Homo sapiens: one gene and its partners. The protein of the gene in region 3 interacts with the protein of the main gene of each other region in a biochemical or structural test. Each region holds a gene or a part of one and is shown on either strand. Other genes may lie near its edges. The genes, in order: ARHGEF26, FRMPD4, DLG1 and KCNJ2.

Region 1 (7,023 bases), about 43 Mb from region 3:
AAGCAATAACTTGATTTTTTTTTTTTTTTTTTTGGTTTTGTCTTGTCTTGAACTCCTGGCCTCAAGTGATCTTCCTGCCTCAGCCTCCCAAAGTGCTGAGATTATAGGCGTGAGCCACAATGCTCATCCTCAAGGAGGTGTTAATATGATAGATTTAAACTTAGATAAAATTTTTATAGATTTTAAAAATATTTTTTAGTTGGTACTGTGTACTGTTGAATTTTCAAACCCCGTGTAATAACATTACATGAGGCTAATCTGTTATCTGTTAGAGTGTATGAAAGAAGTGTTAATTTTTTTTTCCCTTTGGTTTTTCAGGTTCTTTATAGAGTTGGAAGCAAGACATCAGAATAATATCTTCATAGATGACATAAGTGACATTGTGGAAAAACACACAGCATCCACATTTGACCCATATGTGAAATACTGCACAAATGAAGTCTACCAACAACGAACACTACAAAAATTGTTGTAAGCAATGTCGAATGCTACAGTTTTAATCATCTAACCTAGTTTTAATTAGGCTACATTGACTGAAATTAATTGATCTTTTGAATTATATTTAGAAATGCCTCCTGATAGGCTATTTCCCAGAGGAGAAATGTTTAAGAGCATTACTTTTAGGGTGAGGGTGTTTAAGTAGAAAAATCTAGTGTGTAGAGAATTTTCTCTCTTACGAAATTATAGCTTGTTATTGATGTCCTTGTTTAGTGTTTCGTTGTTTTTAATTGTTGCAGGAAACAGAGGTGGTCCTCACTCTAAACCCGCAGTTTTCTAAGCTTTTTACTGGCAATTAAGTGGTTTTCCTGAGGCTTAGAGGGGATTCTTGAGTTGATTGAGCTAAAAGCTAAGATTCAGAGTTTTCTCTACTATTCTGATCTCCCTCCATTCAATTGACAACGATAATAAATTGTTCATAAAAATTGCTGATTATTCCCCCCACTTGGGTAGTTAGAGTTGAAGAGAGGAGGGAAGTTCTGAAGGAAAGCAGTAGAAAAAAGTAATGTTCTTAAAGATTTCAGTTATGCAGCAAAAGAGTTAAGCATTAGATTTCCTGCCACATCTTTTCTTTTTGTCCTTTTTAGGTTACTGAGAGTTTTGATGTGATGCATATGCCATCTGTGTCCTTAAAAGAGTCACCAATTGTTCAGTAATGCCTATATGTATTTTAAAGAGTCCTGTTTATCACAAGTAGCTGTTTTACAGCACAGTTGTGCACTGCTGTAAACCCAGTTTGGGAGCTTAATGGCTGTTATCGTTCTCACCCCCTCCTGTGAGTTGTGGCATTTATGACCACGGCATGGAGCTTCGGTCAACTTCTGTGCAATATGTGAGACCCCTATGGAGGAGTAGGGGTTGAGGATGACTAACTTATGGCTGCTTGGAGAAATAGTCAAAGCCTCTAAGCTGATGAGAAGGGCTGATGATGGCCCCCTTTTTCCTCCACATCTTCATGACATTTTCATATAGCCAGGGTGGAAAACACACAGCTGCTAACCCCAATGAGATTTTTAGTATAAAGCAGGGTTTGTTCGCACAATTGACATTTTGGACTGGATAAGTCTTTGTGGTGGGCTGTCCTATGCATTTTAAGATGCTTAAGGGCATCCCTGGCTTCCATCTGCTAGATGCCAAAAATCTCCCCAGACATTGCAGAAGGTCCCCTGAGGGTAAAACCACACCCATCACTTCCTCACTCCACCACGCCCTGGTGGGAACCGCTGCTATAGGAACAGAGGTTCTCTGTAACTGTTAGAGAATGCAAGTTCATGTCTGAAAACAAAGCCTTGAATTAGAGATAAATTTGGGTTTCATTTTGTTTTGCAGGATTTAAAAAATGTCACTAGGTACTGCTATACATCATGTGACTCTTAAAGGTTTTATCTAAATTAGCTTAATGATAACATCATCAGCACTTTCACGTGGCAATTAGTAGTGTTTTCAGGGGATTTGTTGCAGTTGATGTGATTTTTTTTTTTTTTTTTTTTTGAGATGGAGTCTCACTCTGTCACCCAGGCTGGAGTGCAGTGGCGCAATCTTGGGTCACTGCAACTTCTGCATCCCAGGTTCAAGCGATTCTCCTGCCTCAGCCTCCCGTGTAGCTGGGACTACAAGTGCATGCCACCACACCCAGTTAATTTTTTGTATTTTTAGTAGAGACTGGGTTTCACCGTATTAGCCAGGATGGTCTTGATCTCCTGACCTCGTGATCCACCTGTCTCTGCCTCCCAAAGTGCTGGGATTACACGCGTAAGCCACTGCGCCCAGCCCGCAGTTTATGTGAATTTAAGGTTAGAACAGTGGCTTTCAATTCTAGCTGCATGTTAGAAATGCCTTGGGGCCTGAAAATGAGCAAATGTACACTGTCCAGAGTCCATCCCAGACTATTTAATCAGAACCTTTGGAAGGTGAGGGAGGGGACTGGGACCTGAGTTATTTAAATATACAACTAATTTAGAGGTTTTTGTTTTTTTTTTTTAACTTTCTAAAAATCTTGTCAAAGCTATCAGTAAAAGGAAACTTAAAACTTCTCAATTAGAGAAAATGGAAATGAATTGTTTCTGTATAATTTCTTTTCATTTGCTATTCTGGCATTCTCCCCCTCCCTGCTTTTAGTAGCAGCCTTGAACAAGATTATTTAATTTTCAAAATAACATTTTTTTTAAAAAAAATGACTGCTATTGTCACTATCCTGCTTCCTTCTCCCTTCATGGGAGTACAATATCCATCTACCTCCTACCCTCCTTGCCTTGGAAAGTGGCAGTGGAACTCTACAGAGCTCCTCATGGGATGAAGTGAGGTAAGAGAGTGAGAAATGGGGGGACAAGAGTGTCAGATTTAACATTAGAAAACTTGGGTTTGAGGCCAGGCACAGTGGCTCACGCCTGTAATCCCACCACTTTGGGAGGCCGAGGCAGGTGGATTACTTGAGGCCAGGAGTTCGAGACTACCCTGGCCAACATGAAACCTTTTCTCTACTAAAGATACAAAAATTAGCTGGGCGTCATGGCACACACCTGTAATCCCAGTTACTTGTGAGGCTGAGGCATAGAATTGCTTGAACCTGGGAGGCAGAGGCTGCAGTGAGCCGAGATTGTGCCATTGCACTCCAGCCTAGGTGATAGAGCAAGACTCCATCTCAAAACAAACAAACAAACAAACAAACCTGGGTTTGACTTCTGTCTTTGGCAGTTACTAAGTCATATTTACTTGGTGAGGTAGGGACCTTTCTGCATTCCATTTTCTTACTGGAATCCCTATCTGGCCTTCCTTAAAAGTTACGTAGGTGGTTCCACATGAAAGAATGTATGTCACAGTATCTCGCTAAGTTTCATTAAAATGTTATAGCAGCATTAATACTTTTCTTGCATTAACAGGAGAAAAAGAGGAATATTTCGACTGATGTGATGAAAAGGTTTTCTGTCTCAGAAAGAGGATCTTTGTGGCCTAAAGCCTCTGAAGTCCAGTCTAACTGTTAATTTCTTATGCCATTGTCTAGGGCTGGAGAAGTGGCTTAAAACATATTATTTATGATCTTATTAATGATATATGTTTATAGATGATCGGATATAAAAGACCTAGTCTGTATACTGATTTATGACCCATATATTCACCATTATGATACCACAGCTTCTTCATTTGCTTACCTTCCACTTGTATAAATTTCTAGCTCCTACATGTTTTGCCTTATTGTTAATACTGTTATGTGAAATCCACATCTTATTATATTCAGCCTTGAATATAAAAGGCAGACAAGCCATTCGTATTTGCCAGTGTAATTATGTGCTTATGATATTTTCATACAGTTTAAAATAGTTGATGCTATATGGATTTATCACAGTATTTTGTAATACATTTTTACTTGCTGCTTAATTTGAGGAGGAAATATTTTGAAGTTTCTCTTTTCTTTGTTTTCCCTCAGAGCTACCAATCCATCCTTTAAGGAAGTATTGTCAAGGATTGAGTCCCATGAAGACTGTAGGAACTTACCCATGATCTCTTTTCTCATTCTCCCCATGCAGAGGGTGACCCGCCTTCCCCTGCTGATGGATGTAAGACATGACGGTGGCTTTTTCCTCTGTGGATAGCTGTGCTTCTCTAAATCTGATTTAGAAAATTATTATTATTCCACTTAAATTGATGCATATTTAAAGGTCTAAAAATCCCCCAATTAAGTGAGAAGGTGTTGTTTGTTCAGAAAGTCTCACCTGTATCTGATATCTCTGGAAATTATCTTTCATTTAGGCTTCTATGGTCATTCTGAAGAAATTGGATCTCATCACCCACTTACTCAGCATTTTTTGAAATAGGAAGAGTTGTGGCTTCTTTATGTCAGGAGGCCTGGATTCCAATTCTAGCTAAGCCATTAGGCATGTGACCTTGAGCAACTCAGTCTCTTTGGGCCTAAGATTCCTCAGACTGATCACTGAGATCCCTTCATCTATAATGTTCCAAGGTGCCCTGGGCCTTCCATTTCATACAGGAATGAGAGTCTCTTCAGCATGACAAGGCATAGTACTGCCTGTATTATGCATTGTGCGAAGTGAGTGAGGAAAGCCCAGCTTCCTTCTTGTGTTAGGCAGCATTCATGAGGAAAGCAAGTGTTTTTGACTTTGAATCACGGCAAGACATGACTGGGAAAAGTGAGTAGAGTCTGCCTAGTAGTACGTGCAGCTGGAAAGACAGGTAGGCTATGGGCAGGAGAGCCTGCCACTGGCTGCACTGGAGCTGCTGGGGCAGCAAAAGAGAAAAGTGGGGTGGCTCGACACAGGTGCCATTCTAGCAGTGGATCACAGAGTGTCTTTTTGATCTAATTAGAAAATATTTTGTTATGATTTTCCTACTTTAAAATTGGATCATAATGTTGATATAAGGTCAACTTTTTACATACCTGATTTTGACTAATCAAAACAAAGTAAAATATATATTAAAAATTATGATTAAGGTTACAAAGTAAATTTCACATTCTGTATCCCATTGTAAATTCTAAAATACATTCTTTAAAAATGCTGAAATTTTGAAATGTGTAAAAGCATGGAATCATGAGCATTTAGCTGACTGCTGCAGTTTTGGAGACGTTTTGTCAGGTATTTCAGGATTCATAGCACCTTGTGCTCCTCAAGTTTACTTCGATCTACTGCCTTTACACCTTCTCCACCCATCACCTGTAATTCAGGAACTTCCCCCCTGTGTACATATTGGGAAGCTTGCAGTTTTGAACATTTCACTTTCTGATTTTTTTTTGAGATCAGTATTTATCATGTTTAAAGATAGAATGTGGCTAAGTTATCAGAATCGAATTTTTGCTTAAGAAGGAAACTTTGGTCCATATAAGGAAGTATTATTTCAAACATGACTATTTTTTTAAGCAAGAAGTGAATGCCTTGTAAATACAACATTTCTTGTAATATTAGACTTTTGAATTTTCAGGGTTTTCTTCTTCTGAAAATGCATTTTATTCCTCTTTGAGAATTGAAATAAAAGAACAAAAATAAATAAAATGCATTTTAAACATGTTTTCCAGATTTTATATATGCTGTGATGGCCAAGCCTTTTATATCCTCTTTAAATTTGAGAAAATTACTTGTATGGAATGGGACTCTAAAATCTAACACATTATGTTATACAGTGTTGGAGATTCATGCCATGATTGCTCAGTAGGCTTTAAACTTTTTTTAAGCCACAGACCCCCCCTTGAGATTCTGAGTAAAGCTATAGCTTTTCTTCCCAGAGAATATGTGTATGCACAAAATTTTACATAAAATATCAATATATGGAATCCAGCTAAGGATGCCTGCTCTCAGGGACATAAACCAGTATTTTTCATGCTGCTTTCATACCCATTAGTGGGCCATAAAACTGATTTTTGAATTATGAGCATATGTACGTTGCTCATAAAGTGGTTAAATATTGTTTCATAAAATCCTGGTTCATTTATGTGTGCATGTGTGCTGGTTGCAGTGTAAAAGTATTTCTTACAGTGAGTCATAGTCAAAAAATATAAGAACCTCCACAGATGGTGCACTCTGTGTTTCTCACATAGCAGATAGTTAAAAATCTTGATGCCTGACTTTCAGATGGCTTGGCTTGGTGCTTCTGTACATTTAAGGGACCAGTGACTTGCTAGTAGCCAACTACTTTCTACCTCTGCCTGATGCCTGTTGCTCTAATCTGTTTCTCATGTGTGGAAATCTGGCCATTTAGGCAGAATGTAAATGTATTTAAAATAGTGTCTCTTCAATTTTACCTCATTTGGAAATTCAGTTAAGCTTGTTCATTAAAATAAACACTTTCAGTAATTAAAGTGGTTCCCTGGGCTTTGAATGTGTGTGTATAGCTTTAAAGTTATATGTAATTAAATTTACCGTGAATTGACCCTGTTTGACCTGATTTTCCTATCACAAATGAAATTTCTCAGTATAAATATATCAACAGAAAACCTAGCAGGCTTTTTTTCCTTTGCTGGTTTTTTTGGGTTTTTTTTTGACTGTTTTTTCTTTGAGATGCTGTCACCCAGGAGTGCAATGGTGCGATCTCGGCTCGCTGCAACCTCCACCTCCCAGGCTCAAGTGACCCTCCCACCTTAGCCTCCTGAGTAGCTGGGACCACAGGTGCACACCACCATGCCTGGCTAATTTTCTTTTAGTATTTTTGTAGAGATGGGGTTTTTCCATATTGCCCTGGCTCCTGGACTCAAGTATTCTGCCTGCCTTGGCTTTCCAAAGTGCTGGGATTACAGACATGAGCCACTGTGCCTGGCTGTTCTTTTTATTCAAAATGTATCATCTATAAATATAATTGCCTCTAATAATAATGATTATAATGGTGATAATTAAAGTAACTCTTATTTATTGAGGGCATACCCTATGCCAGGCACTAATAAAGAACTTTACATAAATTATCATTAACACTTCTAACAACCTTGTGATGTAGCTGGCATCACCCCAGTTTTACAGATGAGGAAAGAGAGGCTTATAAAGATAGAGTTAGTGACTTGCTCAAGATTTGATAACTAGTAAGGGC
Region 2 (7,835 bases), on a different chromosome or scaffold from region 3:
TAGACACTCTAAAAAGTCAAAATATGCAGTTTATTTATTCCAGTGTCGAATAATATTCTCTTGGAATTCTCTGTAATTACACTGTCTTTACTCACAGATAGGACACTAAGCAAATATCACTTCCAAGATATGCCTTCTGAATTAACATTTAGAAGCTCAAGTTTGTAGGAACCAAAGGTAAGGCCAGGTACCCAGGGTAACTACATGTGTTTGCCTCTAAACCAAGAGAATTTTAAGCACTGAAGTAACCATGCTGATCAAAGCTAAATCCTTTAGGAAGATTATCCATTCTGAAATCAGGAAAATCCTGCAGTATAAGCACTTTCATACTTCACCTTTGAGAAAAGAACTTGCTTTCTGTAACAGTGTTTAAAACACATACAAGACTTTCTTCCTCCCAAGGCAGAAACAAGCAACTGCAAACATGTGTTTTTACATGCTGATGACCCTCTAAAGGTACTTCTATCTCAGCACGGGGACCATCCTCGGGCTCACACTAAAGAAAAAGAAGAATTCTATGGATGGAAGATTTCTTAATCGGCACATCAGCTCAGAACATTTGCACCTTCTGTCTTTAGAATAAACACTCTACTGGATCACATTAAGGATAGAAAGTGAAACTCACACTCATTTACTAAATTTTAAACTCTCTTTAAAATAAGATACCACTCTCCCCACAGCCTTGCTTGAGTTTTGCAAAAACTCAGATTTGTGAATATCATGTAGGCATCCTAGAATTTAGTAAAAAGAATATGAAACATCTTTTCACTGACACATGACACTGTCCTCTCCAAAGTTCCTAAGTTTAAGGACTAAATCGAGGCTCTAGATGTTTTGTTAAACTGTTTTTAGCATCTGAGGCCACCAAAAAGTATCCTGGTTACTTTGAACTATACTATTGGTTGAACTTCCCTTTCCCTTTAGCAGTATCTCTGTCCATCACACGGAGGGTACCACTTAGCCTCTAAACTTGCACACAGCTGCTTCCCAACCATGGTTCAATATTTGACAGCTGTTTAGAAACTAGCCCTAGGCAGAAGCATGCAGGAAGTTAATAGAATAGTGGTGTGAAGCAATGGCCCTCTATGAGATCAGCTTGAAAGCAAACAATTGGCCACACCACAATCATCCACTGCTTAACACATCAGTCTTCTGATCTGCAGGACAACACCTCTTCCTGAGCTGCTCTAAGACACAGGTATTTACCCATCAACTGCGTATCTCCAGTCTACTTAGAGTAAGCTGCACTGGGCCTTTCTGCCTGGGGAAATCTGCTAGTGGCATGAAGACTGACCCATGTTAGTAGAAAGGGAAGGTGGAGATGGGCAGGCAGAACAAAGACCTGTAGATGTCGGAGAGAATGGCAACATCCAAACAGAACCTTTCTGAAGTGGTCTAATGTAATTTAATAAAGCAAAGTCAACATACGTTTCTACCTCTGACTATTGGAAGCTGCTCATCCCTGCCTGATGCAATCAACACATCTCACTCTGACACTCAGGACTGAAGGAAAACCTGGGATTATTCTGTCCATATTGCAAGTAAGTTTTTAAGCTACATCCTGGAAAAACCCAACTGTCTACCTCCTACGTCCTGGTGGTAGCTGCTATAAAGAGCTCCAGGGGCAGAGAAGGTTGGGCATGGTTTTCTAAGACCACTCCTATTGGGCTCTTCCCAATTAATGCCACATAGCAAGCAGCACAAACCTTACTCTGTGGCTCAAACGAAGACTTTGGAAGCATAAGCAGGGCAGAAGACCTGGAGGAGTGCTCTGGCCAGGCAACACCTAGGCGGCCCAAGCGTGGAAATGTTCCTCTTTTATCAGTACTACCCAAAAATGTCTGAATCGATGATTTAGTTTTAGCTACTGTTTTAACAACATGGCCACTTAGAAGAAAATTTCTAAATCTTTCGAGGCTTAAGAATATAGTTACCCCCCCCCCAAAAAAAAAAAGGCTGAAAGTCTTTCTCTTCTATCTACATGACTTCGCCATCTAGGTTACCGTTGGGAGCACCTGGTCAATCTAGGAGCTGACTTTGTGGAGGTGTGGAGGTGTAATTTAGGAGTTGGGGGAAGGCGGCACTTTTGGTCTTTGCAGCTTGGAAGGCAGGCACCCAAGCTCCAAGCACTTCTGGGTTTCCCTAGCAGTAGCAATTACAACCATCTTCTCTTAGCCCTGAATTATACATGGGACCCCAAACACCGCTGGGGCTTTTCCTTAGGGAAAACAAACTGTCGTGAATGTCGGTGTGTTGGTGAGGGCATGTATGTACCTCTCTGTGTGTGGTCTACACCCGCCGCTACACAAGCCTCAGCAGCCAGTGAGAAATAAGTTGAACGTGGAAGCCCCCGGCCACTTCGTTTGTCTTAAGCCCCGTCGCGCTTTCCAGCTTTTGCCTCTACCCAGCCTCCCGAAAAATAAGGCACCAAGTTGCCCGCGGCAGCGGCCCTGGGTGCAAACGGAACCCGCGCAGCCCCTACCTCGAAAGCTTTGCAATCTTCACAAAGCTGAAGACATCCATGCAGGCAGCTGGGGACCCCCGAGCGCGACAACTCCGTCGCCCCTTCTCACGCCAGCAACAGCAGCCTCCGCAGCCCCATGGCCAAGACCTCAGTGCGCCCGGGGCTCGAGTCGCGGCGACAGCGGGTGGCGGCGGCGGCCGGAGAGAACCTGCACCTGGAGGCGGCGGCTGCTACCCCCCTCCGGCCGCGAGCTGCGTGTGCATCCCCGAGCAGGACCATTGATAGGCACCCGAGGCAGGAAAACTCAATGGAGAGGGAGCCAGGCAGGGCGCAAGAGGCGGGGGCGGGGAGCGCGGCCCGGGTCTCGCGCCCCGCCCCGTGCGCTCTAGCCCCGGGGACTGCCGGGCGTCCAGAGAAAGCGAGGCCTGGGCGAGAGGCGCTGCTCTGGCTTCCCGGCCCTCGGACCCTCGTGCCCCACGCACCGAGGAGCGCAGACGGAGCCGGGAGACGGCAGGCGAGCTGGGCACACGCGCACGCACCCCTCGCAGCACTGCAGCTGCCTCCCTGCCTCCTTCTCCAAGCCGAGTCCCTGCTCCTCTCCCCACCCCCACCCGCCCGGGGGGAGGGGGCACTCTCCTGTCACCCACTGCGTGTGCCTCTAGATCTGAAGGATCTGGTCTAACAGTCTATGGCACACTGGAGAACTGTGAACGCTACCCCTCCCTCCCCAAGCCGAAGGAGAGCCGTGCAACCGCAGGTTGCTCAAAGCCTCGGTTTGCTCCGTAAACAAAACTAGCGTTCGGAAGGAGCAGGGATGATTGAGGTTGGGTCGTTTGTCAAGGGGAAGGGAAGGGAGATGCCAGGCGCAGCGGGCTCGATTCGGGGAGCTCAGAGTTCCCACTGCTTCTCCCGAATCGCTGGGGCGAGACGTGACCACTGGGCTGGCTGGGAAGGTGTGTCTTTGGACAGCAGCACCGCGGGAGTGTCTGCCAAATAAGAACCGGAGGCATTTGCGGGTAGGGGGATGAACACAGCTGCTCCCTCCTCGAGGAGCATAGAGCGGAGGGTCCCAGGAGCCCGTGATGCGGAGGCTAATTCTAACCGGGCTCAGAATCTAAGGAAAGAGAAGGATTAGAATGGGGTCTGCCACGCAGAGCGAGCTGCTTTTGCACACTGAGCCTTGGGTGAAGGGAACAGGGAAGAAAAAAACAAAACAAAACAAAACCTTGCCGGAGAAGCAAAAACACAGAAACATAAACACTCACCTTAGGCAGAGTAAACTCCAAGTTGCAGCCATCTAGAACTCCTCCTAGCCTTCTCTTTTACATAATTACCTTGGATAATCAGCCCTGTTCATTAACTCAGTTCTACCTCCTGGGAGGCTCAGGCTTCATTGGGCCCCTTTTTCTTCTTCCTCTTGAAGTCTCAAGGCCTCTTCTCCACAATCCTTTAAAATTTCCCCCCAGACTGTGAAGGTCAGCTGGCCGCACTAAGTGTGTGCTCTCCCACCGGCAGCGTTCACCTGGCGGCAGGGCCACCGCAAAGAACAGAGAGCACCCCCAGAAATGTTGGAAGATCCAGCCAGTGTTCCAGTCTAGCTCTCCGAGGGGATTAAGAAAGAAATAGGTTTAAAGTTCCCACACTTCTGCTCCTCTCCTGGTCTGTTGTTATATTTAAAGTCTTCAGTATTCAAGCCTAGTACTAAAGCGTTTTTTTTAAGCATTTATTTCAAAAACTGAACATAAAATAAATAGCAATCTGCAAAATCTAAATGACTTAAAACTCAGGCATAAAATTACATGTTTTTGAATACATAGTTATCAGTTTTCCTGCAGCTTCTATTAAACAGGCTAGTTTAATTGCATGAACGCAGTTACTACTCAAGGATCGGAAGGGGCGAGAGGGACCTTGGCTTTTGAACTCTATTGTTTGTAAAATAATTATAGTTTGGGTCTGCACTGTGCTTTATAATTTTTAAAGCTTTTTTTTGCATTGGAGTCTCATCGCAACCTTTTCATATAAGGCAATATATTTAGAAATCTTTTATTTTTATGCCATAATCTATTCTCAACATACCAGACAAAAAGATGTTTTGTGTGTGTGTATGTGTGTGTGTGTGTGTGTGTGTGTGTGTGTGTGTTTTAACGTAGATCACATAAGGCTACTTGTCTGATCTAAAATATGTAAAAGCTCCCCATTGTCCGTCAAGCTAAAGTTGCGCTCCTGCAAGGGCCAACAGGACCCTAGATCCCGTATCCTTTGATCTTTCTTACCTCAACTATTACTGCCCACTTCCCTCTCCCGTTTTTCTCTGTCCCTCCTCATCCCCTACCCCGAGCCCCTCCTCTCTCACACACATACACTCACTGGGCTCCAGCAATTCTGGACTTCTTGCTATCCTTCAAACTCTACAGGTAATCTTCCCACCTTAGGCTCTTTGCAATGGTTGTTCCCTCAGCCTGGAATGCTCTTTCCTGGGATATCTGCATGGCCGGCTTCTCCACCCTGTCAAATGTATGCACCAATACCACTTCCAAAATGCCCCCTCTAGAAAGCCAATTTAAAATTGCAAAAGGTTCTCACACCCTGGACTCCGAGTCCCTATTAACTGTTTTATTCTTTTTTCTTGTTTCCATAGCATTTATCACCCACTAGCACACTATATAATTTATTTTTATCTTTAGGATTTCTTTTTTTTTTTTTTGGTCTGAATCTCCCACTGGAGCTCCACAAGGGCTGGGATCTTTGTTTTGTTTTGCTTTTGTTTTTCACTGATGGATCTCAAATGCCTAGACCACTTCCCCAGATGTAGAAAGAACTTAAGAAATATTTGTTGAACGAACAAATCATATGCCCATTGGATTCACAGCCAAACCAAAGCTGGCCAAGCATCCCCAGTGAGTACTGATCTGTGTATGACTTCGTGGCTTACATCTGTCTCTTTCCCCACCCATCCACTTCCCCAGCATCCTTCAACCTCCTTTGGACTGACTGTTAATGATGGCAACAAAGGCCTTCTTACATTCTCCAGTTATTTTCCCCCTTCACCTTTTCTACCTTTCCCCCAAAAGAGTGGCCACCGACACGTTCCCTCATCTCTGAGTCAACATCTGGCAGCACAAGACCAGCTCGTGATTGGGAAAAGGGGATAAAACAGTGCCTTTGGAGAATGTGTTTTGAAAAAGTGCTTCCTTCTGAGAAGAGAACAGTTGGGATGCTCTTTTTAAAAGGATTACCCTATTTATCAATAATTATTCCAGATACCAAATATCTAATTATTCAACAGTGAAAGTGACAGGAAATAGACATTGTGTTTACTTCTAGAGAGACAGCCTCCCTTGGAGACATCTGGTCTACCTGGAACAGCTTGCTGTTGGCCTTCTCCCTGTGCCAATTTGTGCGCTACGGTTATGAATGATGCAGATGCCATCTCTCCACAGCATAATAGCTACCAAGGGAAATGACTGACTTCTACAGGTCTTTACACACCTCTCATATAGTAATTATCTAGTATGTTTTCTAATGGATTGATATTGTTTTCTAAAGCAAAGAGATTCCACCCCTCCTCCTTTGTTTCTCATTAATACAACAATGGAAAAAGCTGCTCCCTTGAAACATGCTAACACAGAGTGTTTATATCTTTAAGCCATCTTGGCAGAAGGGCAGAGATTGGAGTAGTTGGTCTCTCAGCTCTGTCCCCTCTCTGTGCCAGGTGTGTGCTGCAGAGGTTAGGATAGGTTTGTCTAGCATGAACTAGATCTGCCTAAAACAAATAAAAGCCAAAAAAGTGGGATCCTGAGTACATATGTGGTTTTCTGAAGTTTTCTTATTAACCTGGATGATCTCTAAGGCCCCTTCTGGATCTTGTAGGGATTTACTAGTTGGAAACTGTATTATCCAACCTTGAGAATCTACTTAATTTGCTTTACTTAGGTTCAAGTGACATTTGGTCATTTCTGAAAACCAGACACACTTTCAAACACTGTTGAAAGTACTCATGAATAAAAGACTCAGGGTCACCAGATCCAGAGCAAGTCCTATAACTTCTCTGAGACTCAGTTTCCTCAGCTGTAAAATGGAAATAATACATCTTTACCTTACACAAAATGAGCACTTGAAGTTGGCACCAGTTTACAGTTGGCTACATATGAGTTGAGGCACATGAATATTAGCTCTAGAAGGATTTCCACAGCTGTCTGCAGCCTTGGCAGTACTGGTAGGAAAAGTTTCAGCCTGTAAGATGACTATTTAGGAGGCCCAACATTCGCTTGGATTAATCAGAGGTAGGCACTTTTGCCTAAAAATCAAACACTTTGTTGCCTGGGCAGTTACTAAAGCCCTAGGCTGTAGCATTTTTTATGCCCCGGGGGATTCTCAGGGGGAAGTGTGAGGAGCTTCATCATTCTTAAGGCCTTATCTAAAGCTGGTGTTAGGAATCTGCTATTGGGCCAGATGTTCCATATAGGTTGGCAGCTGAGGGTTCTTTCGCTGCAAGTTACAATAGAGAGAGCCCCAAGCATTTCTCAGCTGGACTGAAGCATCTCGACCATCTGGTCTCAGTCCTGAAAACAGAAGTAAATAAATAACAGCAAGGTATCCATTCAATCAGCAAATATTTATGGAGTGTCTCCCATGTACCAGGCACCACTGTAGGCACTGGGAAATAGACTAGGCAACAAGGCAAGTTTCTGTTCTCATAGAACTTATGAAGAGGAGGTAGATGATAAACAACAAAATCAGAAATTGTAGTGAACAAGAAAATAGCAGATAGCAATGTGCAGAGAATTAAAATTCTTCTGATGGAAAGGGAGTGGCTAGGTGGCTATTTGTTATTCAGTGGTTCAGGAAGACTTCTATAAGGAGGTGACATTTAAACTGAGATATGAAGAACAAGAAGGAGGCTGCCACACAAAATTCATATGGAAGAGCATTCCATGCAGACGGAACGGCAAGGATAAAACAAGGATGGAGTCCTTGAGGCAGGAACGATGATTGTATGTTTGAAGAATCCGAAGGCAGCCACTGTGACTGAAGAGTAACGCGTTAAATGAAGTGAGAGTGAGCGAATTTGCAGGGGCAAGAAGGGTGAGATCACATGGGGCACAGTAGGCCAGTGTCAGCTGTCTGGCTGGTATGAGACGGGAAGCCATGTGAGGATTTTTAGCATGGAAGTGGCCAAATCTGACTTATGTTTTGAATGACCACTCTTGAGGGAAGTGAGTGTGAGGGCAGGGAAACTACTGATTTAGGAGCCTGTTGCAAGAATCCAGGCAAGAGCTGGCAGCAGCTCAGAGAGGACATGACAAGGAGGTGGTGAAAAGTAGCCAGGCTCAGGATATGTTTTGAATAGGAACAGTTGATGGGTTAGATG
Region 3 (7,023 bases):
TTCCACGTATAAATGAAATACAGTATTTGCTTTTCTGTGTCTGGCTTATTTCATATAGCATAAGGTCCTCCACATTCACTCATGTTGGTTGTTGCAGATGATAGGATTTTCATTTTTATGGCCTAATAAAATATTCCATTGTTGTATATATACCATATGCATGCATACATACATACATATATATATATATTTGTTGTTGTTTGTTGTTGGGTTTTTTTGGGGGTTTTTTTTGTTGTTGTTTTTTTTTGAAATGGAGTCTGGCTCTGTCGCCCAGGCTGGAGTGCAGTGGCGCAATCTCGGCTCACTGCAACCTCCGCCTTCCGTGTTCACGCCATTCTCCTGCCTCAGCCTCCCGAGTAGCTGGGACTACAGGCAGCTGCCACCACGCCCAGCTAATTTTTTGTATTTTTAGTAGAGATGGGGTTTCACCATGTTAGCCAGGACGGTCTTGATCTCCTGACCTCGTGATCCACCCGACTCGGCCTCCCAAATTGCTGGGATTACAGGCGTGAGCCACCGTGCCCGGCCTGTTTTTGGTTTTGTTTGTTTGTTTTTGAGGCAGGGTTTTGTTCTTGCCCAGGCTGGAGTACAGTGTCATGATCATGGCTCACTGCAGCCTCAACCTCCTGGGCTCAAGCAATTCTCTCTCTTCAGCTTCCTTAGTAGCTGGGACTACAGGCGTGCAACACCACACCTGGCTAATTTTTTATTTTTGTAGAGACAGGGTCTCGCTATGTTGCCTAGGCTGGTCTCAAACTCCTAGGCTCAAGCAATCGTTCTTCCTCGGCCTCCCAGAGTGCTTGGATTATAGGTGCACTGCACCTGGCCTACAATATTCTCTTTATTCATTCATCTTTTTTGTTTTTGGAGATGGAGTTTTGCTCTTGCTGCCCAGGCTGGAGTGCAATGGCATGATCTCAGCTCACCACAACCTCCCGGGTTCAAGCGATTCTCCTGCCTCAGCCTCCTGAGTAGCTGGGATTACAGGCATGTGCCACCATGCCCAGCTAATTTTGTATTTTTAGTAGAGATGGGGTTTCCCCATGTTGGTCAGGCTAGTCGAACTCTTGACCTCAGGTGATCCGCCCGCCTTGGCCTCCCAAAGTGCCGGGACTACAGGCGTGAGCCATCGGGCCCGGCTCATTCATCTTTTGACAGACTCTTAGGTGATTTTCATATCTGGGCTATTGTTGATTATGTTGCAGTGAACATAGGAGTGCAGATTTCAACATACTGATTTATTTTCCTTTGGTTTTCTTTTTGTTGTTGTTGGCTTTTTGTTTTTTATTGTTTTGTTTTGAGACAGAGTCTCACTCTGTTGTCCAGGCTGGAATGCGGGTGTGATCTCAGCTTGCTGCAACCATCGCCTCCTGGGTTCTGTTGATTCTCCTGCCTTAGCCTCCCAAGTAGCAGGGACTAGAGGCACATGCCACCACACCCAGCTAATTTTTGTATTTTTAGTAGAGACAGGGTTACAGGGTTGGCCGTGCTGGTCTCAAACTCCTGACCTCAAGTGATCCGCCTGCTTCAGCCTCCCAGAGTGCTGGAATTACAGGTGTGAGCCACCACGCCTGGCCCAATTTCCTTTCCTTTGTATATATATCGAGTAGTGGGATTGCTAGATCATATAATAACTCAGTTTTTAATTTTTTGAGGTGGCTGGGCACAGTGGTTCATGCCTGTAATCCCAGCATTTTTGGAGGCCCAGGTGGGCAGGTCCCCTGAGGTCAGGAGTCCGAGACCAGCCTGACCAACATGGCGAAACCCCTTTTCTCTACTAAAAATACAAAATTAGCCGGGCGTGGTGGTGCATGCCTGTAATCCCAACTACTTGGAAGGTTGAGGCAGGAGAATTGCTTGAACCTGGGAAGCGGAGGTTGCAGTGAGCCAAGATCGCACAATTGCACTCCAGCCTGGGCAACAAGAGTGAAACTCTGTCTCAAAAATAATAATAGTAATAATAATTTCTTGAGGAATGTCCACACTATTTTCTGTGATGGCTTTACTCATTTACATTCCCACCAACAGTGTACAGGGTTCCCTTTTCTTCATACCATTGCCTACTTGTTATCTCTTATCTTTTTGATAACAGCCATCCACACAGGTCTAAGGTGATATTTCATTATGGTTTGCGTGTGTGTTTGTGACAGAGTCTTGCTCTGTCACCCAGGCTGGAGTACAGTGGCATGATCTCAGCTCACTGCAACCTCTGCCTCCTGGGTTCAAGCGATTCTCATGCCTCAGCCTCCTGAATAGCTGGGATTACAGGCACATGCCACCACACCCGGCTAATTTTTGTATTTTTAGTAGAGACAGGGTTTTGCCATGTTGGTCAGACTGGTCTCAAACTCCTGGCCTCAAGTGATCTGCCCGTCTCAGCCTCCCAAAGTGTTAGGATGGCAGGCGTGAGCCACTGCACCCAGCCTCATTATGGTTTTGGTTTCTGTTGCTCTGATTAATGAGGTTGAGCACTTTTACTGATACCTGCTGGCCATCTGTATGTCTTCTTTGGAAAAATGTCGATTCCAGTCCTTTGCCCATTTTTTAAATGGATTATTTGGTATTTTGCTAATGATTTTCTTATATATTTTGGATATTAACCCCTTACCAATTGCATGTTTGGAAATATTTTCTCCTCTTCCATAGGTTGCCTTTTCATTTTGTTGATTGTTCCTTTGCTGTGTAGATTTTTTATTTAATATCCCACTTGATGATTTTTTATTTTGCTGCCTGTGCTTTCCAAAAAATCATCCAAGACCAGTGTGAAGGCGCTTTTTTCCCTGTGTTTTCTTCTAGGAGTTTTATGGTTCTGGTTTTACATTTAAGTCTTTAGTCTATTTCAAGTTAATTTTGTATAAGATAAGGGTTTAGTTTCGTTCTCTTGCATGTGGATATCCAGATTTTCCAGCACCATTTATTTAAGACACTAGCCTTTCCCTATTGTGTAGTCTTGGCCCCTTTTTAATGATTAGTTGCCCTTTGATCCGTTTTGAAATACTATTTGTTTAAAAAAAAAAAAAGTAGGTAGCAACTCCCCAATATTCTTATTTTACTCGCCTTGTCCTTTAACTTCCTCCTCAAGTCTTTGGACATTTTTGTTGTTGTTACTTGTTTGTTTGAAATAATATCAGCCTAAATTTGACATTCACACTGAGTATCAGTAAGGGTCATGGTTTTTAAACCTTGTGCTTTCTTATTTTTTTCAAACTAATTTCAGACTTAAATAGAAGTTACAAGAATAGTACAGGGAGTTTCATGTACCCTTCACCCAAATTCCTCAAGTGTTAACATTTTACCACATTTATAGGTTTTTTTCTGATACACTTGAGAGTAAGTTTCAGGTAGATGTCCCTTTACTTCTAAATATTTCAGTGTGTATTTTCTAAAAAACAGGGATATTCCCTTATAGAATCATAGTTTTATTATCAAAATCAGGAAATTTAATAATTATATGTCTCATCTAACTATAGATCTTATTAGTATTTCACTATTCTTCTAATCTCTTTAGAGCAAAATGGAAAAAAATGGTTTTTCTGTTCTGGTGCAGGATCCAGCGGAGGCTCACGTGCTGTATTGGATTATCACATCCTTAATGTTCTTTAATCTGAAATCGTTCCCAAGTCTTGTTATTCATGACCCTGACTGACATTTTTTAAGAGTAAAAACACTAGGGGGGATTTTTTGTTGTTTTTTGTTTCGTTTTGTTTTTTGTTTCGTTTTGTTTTTTGTCTTTTGTTTTTTTTTGAGCCAGGGTCTCACTCTGTCACCCAGGCTGGAGTGCAATGGTGCGATCTCAGTTCACTGGAACCTCCACCTCCCAGGCTCAAGTGATCCTCCCACCTCAGCCTCCCAAGGAGCTGGGACTACAGGCTACAGCCAACATGCCCAGCTAATTTTTGTATTTTTTGTAGAGACAGGATTTCGCCATGTTGCCCAGGCTGGTCTCAAACTCATCCAATCCGCCCACCTTCACCTTGACCTCCCAAAGTGGTGGGACTACAGGCGTGAGCCACTGCACCCGGCCAAAGACCCATTCTTTTATAAAATGTCCCTCCCTCAATTTGGATTTATCTGATGTTTTCTCATAATTCGATTTAGGTTCTGCATTTGGGGCAGGAATAGCAATGAAGTAATGATGTGTCCTCTGTGTATCATGCAAGGAGGTTTACAAAGTCTACTTGTGCCGTTACTTATGATGCTAATTTTAATCACATGGTTAAGGTGTCTGCAGCCTTATGCTTTCCCAGTTTCCCTGGTTTACTAACCATTCCATTAATGAATTTACAAAGTAAGCAAAATGTATATTTCCCAAGTCAGTTCCTGACTGTTTTCTCCTAAAATAAATCCTTGCGTGCTGTTGTCAACCTAAACTATGAAATGCTCTAAAATAAATCCTTGCGTGCTGTTGTCAACCTAAACTATGAAATGCTCTGGGATTCTGTCCTGTGCTGTTGGGGTGCATCAAGATGCCAAACCCACGAACCAAGTATTTTGTCAAATGAACTGAGTCTTCAGGGACATTGAGGCATGTCTGCATTTAGCTCAAAAGGTAGAAGTCTCACAAAACTGATACTAGCGAATATCATGTTACTGAAAATTCTTGGTTATTCAGGCGTTCCTAGCTATGTATAAGTGCTTCCTACCTACATACAACGTCTTTCTTCTATGCACATCATCTCAGGTACCAAATAGACAGTATTATTTAAAATCCCCCTTTGACATTTTATGCTCAGTTTTTCAGACCATGGAAATCTACACCTATGATGCTCTTCCAAGATCACTGGGCATTTTTTTGTAGTTTAGTAAGTGACTTATTTAATTTGCAATTCTCAATTATTTCATTTATATGTAAACTTTTTTACGAGACACAAGGTTCCACTCTGTCACCCAGGCAAATGGTACAATCCAATGGTACGATCATAGCTCACTGCAGTTGTGAACTCCTGGGCTCAAGAGATCATCCTCCTGTCTCAGCCTCCCAAGTAGCCAGGATTACAGACACACACCACCATGCCCAGCTATTTTTTTTTTTTTTTAAATACACAGGGTCTCACTATGTTCCCCAGGCTGATCTCAAACTCCTAGCCTCAAGCAACCCTCCCACTTCAGCCTCCCAAAGTGCTAGGATTGCAGGCATGAGCCACCATGCCCAACCATAAACATTTTCTTTCTTTCTTAAAAAGTTAGTTACTCATGCTTAGTGCTGTCTAGCGATACTTTGTTTTTGTTTGTTTGTTTGCTTTATTAACTAATCCCTCACAGACCTCAGGGGCTTCAGCTATTCCCAAAGAATTAGTTGTTAGTAATTGTTACTCTTTTTTTCACACATTATTTCAGACAGCAAATAAACATTGATTGTTAAGTCTCTAACCACTAACAAGCTAGCTTAGGTATCTCTCAATTCACCTACACTACAGTACCTGACATGCTAGCTTAACTGAAAAAAGTAGTATCAATCTGTAATCAGCTCTTTTCCCCCAAGATCCTACCCCAAAAAAAAAAAAAATTATCCTTACATCATCCTGTCTATGGGATTGTACCCAGTTTCCTTTTTTCTACATATGTTTATGGAGAAATCAGGAAAGTTAAGAAAATAATTTGTTTTAAAATAATAAAGCTAATATATGCTCAGATGGTAAAAGAACAAAAGAAAAGATCTCCAAGTCTTACTTTTTGATCCATTTTTAAGATAAAAATTTTATACTATATAAATAGGAAAATTAATGAAGTGAGCCTTTTTTCCTAAGTGAACAGTGTGTAAATGGTGATTCTTCCTGGATGAGTAACTTTTTCAAAGATACTAGCTTCTACTATTTCATCAATAATTGTAATGGCAAAAATAGACAATTAATGGAGATTTCTGATTTTGTTTCTATCATTACAGCTATTGTACAGGGGGATACGCTGGAAGACATTTACAACCAAGTGAAACAGATCATAGAAGAACAATCTGGTTCTTACATCTGGGTTCCGGCAAAAGAAAAGCTATGAAAACTCATGTTTCTCTGTTTCTCTTTTCCACAATTCCATTTTCTTTGGCATCTCTTTGCCCTTTCCTCTGGAGTCTTTCTTGAGTACTGATTTCATGTTGAATTGTATCCCACACATCATGGTCTGCAGCTTCTTTTTCACATGTAGTGTCTCCTTCAAGTTACATCGTGTGTATTATTTAATGTCACTATTGGTTAGTGGCCATTTTTCAGAACTGAAGATGGAATGGCCTGACCAGCTATTAAGAACGTGGGGAGACGCAGAAATTGTGGTAAAATTCCTTAATGTTTAAGGGAAAGTAACTTTAAGAGATTTTTGGAAAAGCTTTATATACATTCTTTTCAAATTTCAGTACAAATGAAAAAGTGGTTTTAATCAGTGATTTAGTAGACTTTGAGCAACTGTGCACGCTTCAGTTTAATAGCATGGTTTGGCCAGTGTATTACTCTCAAGTCCTTTTCTCAATCAACTTCTATCATCAAAGCAATTGTTTCATTATAGATAAATAAGGACATTTTTTAATTTAAAAATTCATGTCTGAGTTGACTTTCATAAGGGATTTCATTTTTTCCTCAACATTCTTAAAGCCTTTTAGTATTTGACGGTTCTTTTTTCCCAGGACATTTGCTAGGAATAACAACGTTTCAATGTTTTTAATCTACTTGAGCAACACTATCGTGTCTTACAAAAGTTGTTCATATGTAAATGATCATCACATTTCGTGAATTGAGGCCATGTTCAGGTGCTAAGGAAGTTCGCCTTTTACACAGAAGATTGAGAAAATTTCCTAGATATAAATACAGATAAATCAGACGTTACAGTGGTGACGTAGTAACCATCATGGCAATGGAAAGGAGTCCAATTCATAGCCTAAAACTTCAAATGTATTCTTAGGAGTCAGATTTTACTGAATATTTTACCCACAATAGCTGCCTATTTTGTTATAATAAAATATATATAAATATATATATAAAACTTTCTTTAAACTGTAACTATGGGAATTATTTTCTTTACATAGTTGCGCACACACAC
Region 4 (7,675 bases), on a different chromosome or scaffold from region 3:
CCATCCGTGGTTATAGAGGGTAAACCGAGGCTGTAAACTCATTACCTTTGGGAGACCTAATGTATCCCAGAAAACACAGATGAAATGATCATTGTAATCACTGAATCAAGAAACATAGTAATGTAGGGTCTGGCCCTAAAATGAATATGGTATTTTCAGAGTGTAATTGTCTCACTCATGTGAGATAAATGAAGTCTTCCAGAGCATGACAGAATAGGTAATTTACTAAATAATAACATGGAGGCTCTGGAAGTGTGAGCTTCTTAAAGAACAGCCCCACTTATTGATTTTGGTTTTAACATATTTGATGGAAAATAAAGGTCATAATAATAAACGGATAAAGTAAGCACTGAAATATTTTCTCAATACATCAGTACATGATTTTATGTGTACATATAAACATATGGATAGTTGCAAACACGCGGGTATCTCACTTACTCAGAAGTTTTCCTCAGCTATTTATAACAGCAAATACAAAGACTAAGCCATTTAAATGCTCTGAGAAGCAAAATAGATGCCATAAATCCAAATCCTGAAGCTTTTTTACCCAAAAAGGAGGTTGACCAAGCGAAGGTAACTCCAAATTCAGCATCTGCTCATACTATTTCAAAAATGCATCTTTAGATATGTTAAATCATATTTGCTTGTACATTACTTTAGCAACCTTGGTTACATAATTTATCAGCCCAGCACAGATTAGAATCAACAAATTAGGCAGAGCATGGTGACAGTCTGACAGATTCAAGGCACATTATCAGAAGCAAAAATGAGAACGGAAGGCTCACATTGATGGAGAAGGGAAAACAAGCAGAAGGGCTTAAATAAGCTTAGTCTAGGGTCATTTAATGCAGGAGAAAAGGCTCTACTGTAACCTGATAGGCCTACTGTATTGCAGGTAAAAAATGAAATAGCTTATGTTTATTATAATCATATTGAGTAATCATCAAAAGTTATACTAAAACATACTGTTCCTTTCATTCATTTCCATGTAACTGACATTTATTCTTAGAAACAACTTATAATTCATATGCTTGATTACCTGTATATAGAAAGGTCTGGGGCATAGCAGGCATTTAAGAAATTAACTGAATGAGGAGCCACTCCTATCTTCTGACGTGTTCTCAGCATCCTTAATACCACTACACATAGTAATATGTCATATGTATTAAATCTTCCATTACAAAGTCTTACCCTGCTTCATTCCATTCTTCAAAATCTAAGATTATCGTTTTATTTGTTGCTTGATCCATTTTAGTGCATAATCATAAGCTGCCTTATATTGTTGTTTAATCATTTAAATGTTTCACTTCTGCCTTGTTCATCTTCTCAGTTAGACATTTTGAACTCTTAAGAAGAGGAATTACTCCCGCTAGGACACTTCTGTCTTTCATCTCACCTAGCATATAGCCAAAGTACAACGTAGTTATTTCAACAAATACGTTCACTGAATTTAAAAATATGAAGATTAAATATTATCAATGCAGTAAGTGAAACTAAAGGCCAAAACTGTTTTCCAATAAATAAGATTACATACAGTGCCTTAAAATACCACAGTAAGTGGCTTGTTCTCATAGCAGCAGATTGCAAACTCAGCCTGTCTACATTTCCGGGCAATCTGACAATGATTTATTTACTATTTATTGCTAATGATGATTACTTTGAAGATTAGAAAGTGGTTTTTAATATCCAGTGGATACAAATGCCAGGAGCGTTTGATGTTTTACCATTGTGAATTTGAACTGCATATACATGGTTAATGTAAGTCTGAAAGTATGTCTAATTGTTGGGGATCTTTATATAAATGCAAAGGAAAGATCTGTGCTTCTAGTGAAACAATCACCTTCTGCGTCACACAGCTATTCACAATCTGACTGCAGATCCAGATTGTGACTAATATTTGGCTCTAATATTATAGGTGGTTACCGTGGAGAGAATCAGTAAGAGCATAATTGTCATTTCCTTGGAAAAATTTAATCCACAGATGGATCCCAACACCCAATTGCATTCGTGTCCAAGACTAATGGGGATTTTTGCTAAATAAGGCCTGATTCAGCCAAAAAAGATAGACTCTGAATACAGAAATCTGCATCACGCATCACTTCAAAAGATGTATTAAATCAAACACTGAAAGCATTGGCACACAGAATTTTCCTAATAGGGACATGATGAAAAGTCATTTATTAATTAAAATGCATTTATATTTTCTTTTTTTAAAATGAAGCAATGGGGGTATTCTACGCTACCATACATTTACAAAATTTCATTTGCAAAATTTCATCCTTCATACTTCCTTATTTAGCTAATTAAGGTAATGATTCTACTTAGATTGGAAAGTTCTAATTAAAATCATTAATTTTTCCCGAACCTTCTCCTTCAAGATCTAAGCTTTGCTGCACATCCTTCAGTCTTTGGGAGGAGAGAATGTTGGGGGATGTGCTGCTGATAATTGATGAGAGAGAGCAGGATACATTTATTATGACCTTCCTCCCGCTGCCCAGCTAAATTTATACAGCCAACCATAATCTAATAACTCTGTGTTCCTTTCTTTAAAGATTTTCCTATCATATGAAACTATTTCGGCCTGTGGTGTATTCTTTCTAATTAGAGTAGAATACTAAAGCAAAACCATTTCAATCCAAGTTGCATAAAAATGCCATCCCTTTCCGAGTGACTGGTTTTCAAAGCGAGCTCATTACCTGGAAAAACAACAACAACAAAAGTGTTGCCTCTCTGAATTCACGTGGTTTGGAAAATTCTTAGCCATCTACAGATGCACCAACTGAATCATAATAAAGAAGAGAAAATCTATAAATGATTAATTTCCTTTTTCTATTTAGGCTTAACATGTTTTAAGGGATAATTAAACTTTTGGCCTGTTTCTTAGAAGTCCAGGAGGAAGCATATTTCAGAAGAAGCTTATTGAACTGAGCGGTGAACTCATTCATTATCCTTTGGTTAATACAGAGTGAACTTGTCTACCCTCAGGTTCATTTAGCTTTAGGCTACAGCCTAGATTCTTAGACATCCGTCTATTTTACAGTATTAATTCAAGCTGTTTATAAATAACACATGACTAAATAGATGTTAAAGAAGACCTCCCTTGGGGCAGGCATTATTCCCACGTGCATGGCAACAGAGTTCGTAACAGGGCTTGGTGAACAGTATAATCTCAACACATTAACTGGGACCACATCGCCATTTGGCTATCAGAGCAGCCACACCGAGTGCATCATCTCTTGCACACCCTTTTAATTTAAGTACCTTGCTCAGTGCTAAGAAAAAAGGCACACTTGTTAAGGCAGGAGTAAGTGCGGATCTGCGAAACCTAAGCAAGCATATTTCACCAGCACCTCCTAGGGGCCACGTGTGGATATGAGGATGGGAGGTGGGGACTCGCACAGAACCTTTCCTTGAATTGTCAGTTTCACCTCTCCTACACACAAAAATCCACCCCGACTGCGCCGTCCACAATACCAGCTAGTTTGCTGAATTAGTTCAGCGACTCAAGGAGGCCTTACGAGGTTTAAATAAACTGCACAAAAGACACATTTGATCGCTCGAGAAAATAAACATTTAAAAAACTCAGTGGAAAGAAAGACTCCTAAAATATATCCTGTCCTTTAGGAGCAAAGCTTCGTTAGGACACCGAAGTACTCAGAAATAATAGGCACTTACTCTTCGGTTTACACACACACACACACACACACACACGGATTAGTTTATAAAGTTCCAGGATCCAGACCCGGTTAACACTGAAGTTGCTTTTTAGGGGTCTGCGCGCTCTCGCCTGGCTGCTGGGAAGGAGGGCTGGGAGGCGCTGAAGCGAGGGCAGATCTGAGTGTCTGTAGGAGTTGCTATTCCAAAAAAAATCATTACTCTCTAATTGTTCTGATTTTAGATCAGCAAAGCGTGCCGGGCGGTGGTGGAGAGACTGAGGGCGGACAAGGCGAGAGGGAACGAGCCGTCCACCCTTCGGAGAAGCCTAGGCGCCTTGTAAGTAATTCGCGAACAGTCGGGAGAACAAACAGCCAAGCGGCGCTGCAGTGGCCGCACTTGCGCGCGTCTCAATCCTGGGGGCTCTGCGCGCCCGCCCCAGTCCCTCGCCCCATTGACTCAGTGGCTTCTCCGGGCGCTGCAGCCTCCGCGGGGGGCTTCGAAGGGCCGAGGGGCTCCGGCAGAGAGGGAGTGGAGAGGGAGACGCGCCGGGACCGACGAACAATCCTGCCCCTGCGGCAAAGGTCTCTACCCGGCGCTGGCACCTCGCAGGCCCCTCGAGGAGCACGCAGGGCAAGCGGCCCAAGAGCGGGGGAACCGGGAAGTGTGTGGGGCTCCAGACGGAGTAGGAAGCTTTGCCCAAGGCCAGGCTGCAATCAGGCAGCCGCAACAGCCGGGCGCGGAGCTTCCCACCTGCTGCTGTCCCAGCTGGGCCGCAACTTCCTCCTCCCCGGCCCGGGCCCGACTCCCCGGCCGGGCTCCGAGGGTGGAGGGGGACGAGGCGGCGGCAGGTTCCCTCCGCTGGCAACGCCTCGCAGCATCCTCCCCTCCCCGCCGCGGTTCCCGGGGCCGGCCGCGCGGCCAGGCGCGCTGCGATTGGCCGGCAGCGGCCGGGGGCGGGGCCAGGAGAGCCGGTGTCGCACGGACCGCCTCAAAAGAGCCCAGGATATTGCAGAGCGCACTGGAGCCCTGGCCAGCGCGCAGCCTTCCCGGCGCCGGCGGGCTGGGTCTTGGGAATTCTGGTTTGCTTTGGCTCACTCGCTTTTTACAAACCACTGGATCTTACATGCCTCTGTACCCCCCACTTCCACTCCATGTCCCCATGCTCCTGCGCCAGCAACAGGTAAGGGCTGCTGTGTTTTCTTCCTTTTCGCTCGCTGCCGGTGTGTCCTGGGGAATGGACTCTGGCCGCCGTCCCCTACCCTACCCTGCCCCGCTGCTCCAGAGGTGCCCAGCTGTCACACTGCTGTAGCGCTCACCCACACTCCGGAGTCCCAGATCATGCCTATATAGTTTGTGTGCGCACCAGAACATCCCCAGAGCTAAAAATACTGAGACATGCTTGGAACAGTTGAGCAATAGAAACAGATTTCTCTGCAGCATCTGTTTGTGCTCATAACTTCCAATGCACCAGCTGTAGCGAGATACTGGGTTTGGAGGCAAGGGCGAGAGCGTCTGTGTTCGGTTCTCACTCTAAGTGGGGAAAAAAAGAAAGAAAACGTGGTTGCGGGTTTGGGGGTGCGTCTTGAGCCCTGGTCTTAAACCTTGGCAAAGCTTGGGACTCAGCACTATTCTTGATCCTTGGCTTTTTTTTTTTTTCGTCATTGCTTCAAGTATAGCTGTGAGTTTCAAACAGAGTGAGTGTCTCAAAGTTGCCTTCCTGAAAGAAGAGCGGGAGCCCGAGTTGGATTTGAGCCTGAGGATCGCAAAACTTTCACATTACATATCACTCTCCCCTAACCAATTTGTTATTTTCAGTAATAATGGTATTAATACCTGGCTTGAAGACAGTGTGGTTTTAGGAAAGCAAAATAGTCAAAACGACTTGATTCTGCAAAAAGATTGCATCATAGCGTGGATTCATCATGACAATTGGAAAAAAAATAGGGATAGGGAATGGGCAGTTTAATGTCTGTGTCTGGGTAAGGATATCATAGGATGATCACTAGGATAAAAGGCTGTGAATTCCGACGATTTTCATAAATTCAGATTTTACCTGTTAGGAAATAAGGTGTTATTTGAAAACCTCGGATATGCAAAGAAACCATATTGCGTTTTATCATTTGTTTTCTTTTCACATTAATAATCAATAGGCTGCCAGATTTCCTCTCGCCAACCAATGTTGTGTGTCTGCTGTACATTATCTGTACACTTGTTAGCGTTTTCCTGCTCACTTCCAAATGTTTCATTTCTATTTGCCATTATCTGGAAAAATCCTGGTGCTCAGAAGGGGTAAGAGATGTTAATTGAAGCATGGTGGAAAGGGTGAGGATAAGGTCAAGGCCATTTTACTTAGCTTCCTCCTCTCTCATATTTTAATGACACTTTATTTTTTAATGTTCTTGGTCTCCATAAGAAATATTTGATCTAAACTCATGTGAATTTTGCTTTTAAAAAAAATAAAAGAACACAGTCTTTCTACATCCTTTGGATTCCTGAGTTGTAGAATCTCTGGTTAGCTGTAGCGTCCTTGTATGACTTTTGCGTAGCCTGAAAGATTGAAAACAGCTACCTGCACAGATTAAGTGTTTCAGATTTTTTTAAGTGTATATTTTTATTTACCAAACATGTCTGTTTTTCAGCGTATGCAAATGCTGAGCAGTGCTACAAGCCAAGTGTCGTTGAGTATAAATGTTAGACAGGGGGCTCACACGTAGATAGATGGGTATCCCCCTCCCCTCCCCACTTCCCCCTCCTCCTCCCTCATGTTTATTGAGCTTCTAAGAGGCTGCTTTCCTAGCAGTTGTGCTCACATAGCAACATGTGCCCAGAGCACACTCAGGCTGTTCTATATGGCGTCAGCTGGGGAATAGCTGCTCTAAACACTCATTAGCAGACCTCTCTCTCAGCCCAGTACGTTTTCTTTTGCTATCTTTATTTCCTATCCTTAGAAACTTTCTTATTTATTGCACACCATGACCATATTACAGGACACATTTACTCTCATTTGATTTTTTTTTTTAGTTATTTATAAGCCATATTGGAAGTATTACCTATATAGTCAAAGCAATTTAGATCCCCCATTTGTACCATGTGATCTCCTTGACCTTACATTTATCCATAGCTCTTTCTCCTTTAACATCTACCTAAGTTTAAAACGCTGAACTATTTTTTTCCATTGCTTATGCTTAATTTTGGCTCAGCCTATAAATAGTCTTAACATGAACAGCACCACATGTAACCTCTCAATTTCCCAAAAATACTTTCTACATCATGGGTTATGGCCTGGATAAAAATGATTATTTGTGTCCATGAAATTTACATCTAGACCCTTAAATATTTTGGCTGGAAGGGAGATTTACACATTGTTCATCAAATCAAATTTCAATTCTCTGGATTTGTATCACTTAGTGTTCTCATCTACTCCTCATTGATTGCATCTCAAACATTATTTTGAATATATGCTTGAAATAAAGTTGCATGTAAGCCCTGTTTTTTTAATGATAGCTTTTCTCAGCTGCTCACGAATTGGTAATTGCTAGTGAGAGGACCGGGCAAGGAAGTTTTCTGCTTGCTTAAAGTCGCTCAGGCATGTGGGCAGGTTAACAGTAAAAGCAATTTTTACCATGAAATATTAAGACCGTTACCCCATCAAACCTTGACAGGTTCTAGACTTTAGCTATGTAATCAGCTCCACAAAAAGTCTGCATACATATATGTGTGTGCACCTGCATACACACATAAATCTGTTTGGGGGCATATCTATTTAAAGTGGCAAAAGTTTTCTTTTTGCCAAAAAAAAAAAAAAAAAAAAAAAAAGCCCAAAACTCCTCTTTTTCTCTTTCCAGGAAGAAATGGTAAAATTTCTAAATGATGCTCCACATGTGGAACAAATTCTGTTATTAGCAATGGAAATAAGACAATAATAGTCTCTCAATACAGGCTACTTTCAAGATTCTAAATGTGGAAAGCTATTCATAGGAAGCTGGTATTGTGTGATTTGTGGAATTCAAACAAATGT

What was found.
Region 1: the proteins of DLG1 (region 3) and ARHGEF26 interact in a test that uses a peptide from one of them, tested with the Homo sapiens proteins (2 studies listed by BioGRID and IntAct, with this or other methods).
Region 2: the proteins of DLG1 (region 3) and FRMPD4 interact in a test that uses a peptide from one of them, tested with the Homo sapiens proteins (2 studies listed by IntAct, with this or other methods).
Region 4: the proteins of DLG1 (region 3) and KCNJ2 form a complex in vitro, tested with the Homo sapiens proteins (2 studies listed by BioGRID and IntAct, with this or other methods).

What each region holds. Positions count from the first base shown.
Region 1 is NC_000003.12:154,187,367-154,194,389, forward strand, and holds part of ARHGEF26 (rho guanine nucleotide exchange factor 26), read left to right. Parts: intron 1-318; coding exon 319-471; intron 472-3,922; coding exon 3,923-4,052; intron 4,053-7,023. UniProt on the Homo sapiens protein: Activates RhoG GTPase by promoting the exchange of GDP by GTP. Required for the formation of membrane ruffles during macropinocytosis. Required for the formation of cup-like structures during trans-endothelial migration of leukocytes.
Region 2 is NC_000023.11:12,133,660-12,141,494, reverse strand, and holds the start of FRMPD4 (FERM and PDZ domain-containing protein 4), read right to left. Parts: upstream 3,023-7,835; 5' UTR 2,524-3,022; coding exon 2,483-2,523; intron 1-2,482. UniProt on the Homo sapiens protein: Positive regulator of dendritic spine morphogenesis and density. Required for the maintenance of excitatory synaptic transmission. Binds phosphatidylinositol 4,5-bisphosphate.
Region 3 is NC_000003.12:197,043,591-197,050,613, reverse strand, and holds part of DLG1 (disks large homolog 1), read left to right. Parts: intron 1-5,884; coding exon 5,885-5,991; 3' UTR 5,992-7,023. UniProt on the Homo sapiens protein: Essential multidomain scaffolding protein required for normal development. Recruits channels, receptors and signaling molecules to discrete plasma membrane domains in polarized cells.
Region 4 is NC_000017.11:70,164,865-70,172,539, forward strand, and holds the start of KCNJ2 (inward rectifier potassium channel 2), read left to right. Parts: upstream 1-4,667; 5' UTR 4,668-4,837; intron 4,838-7,675.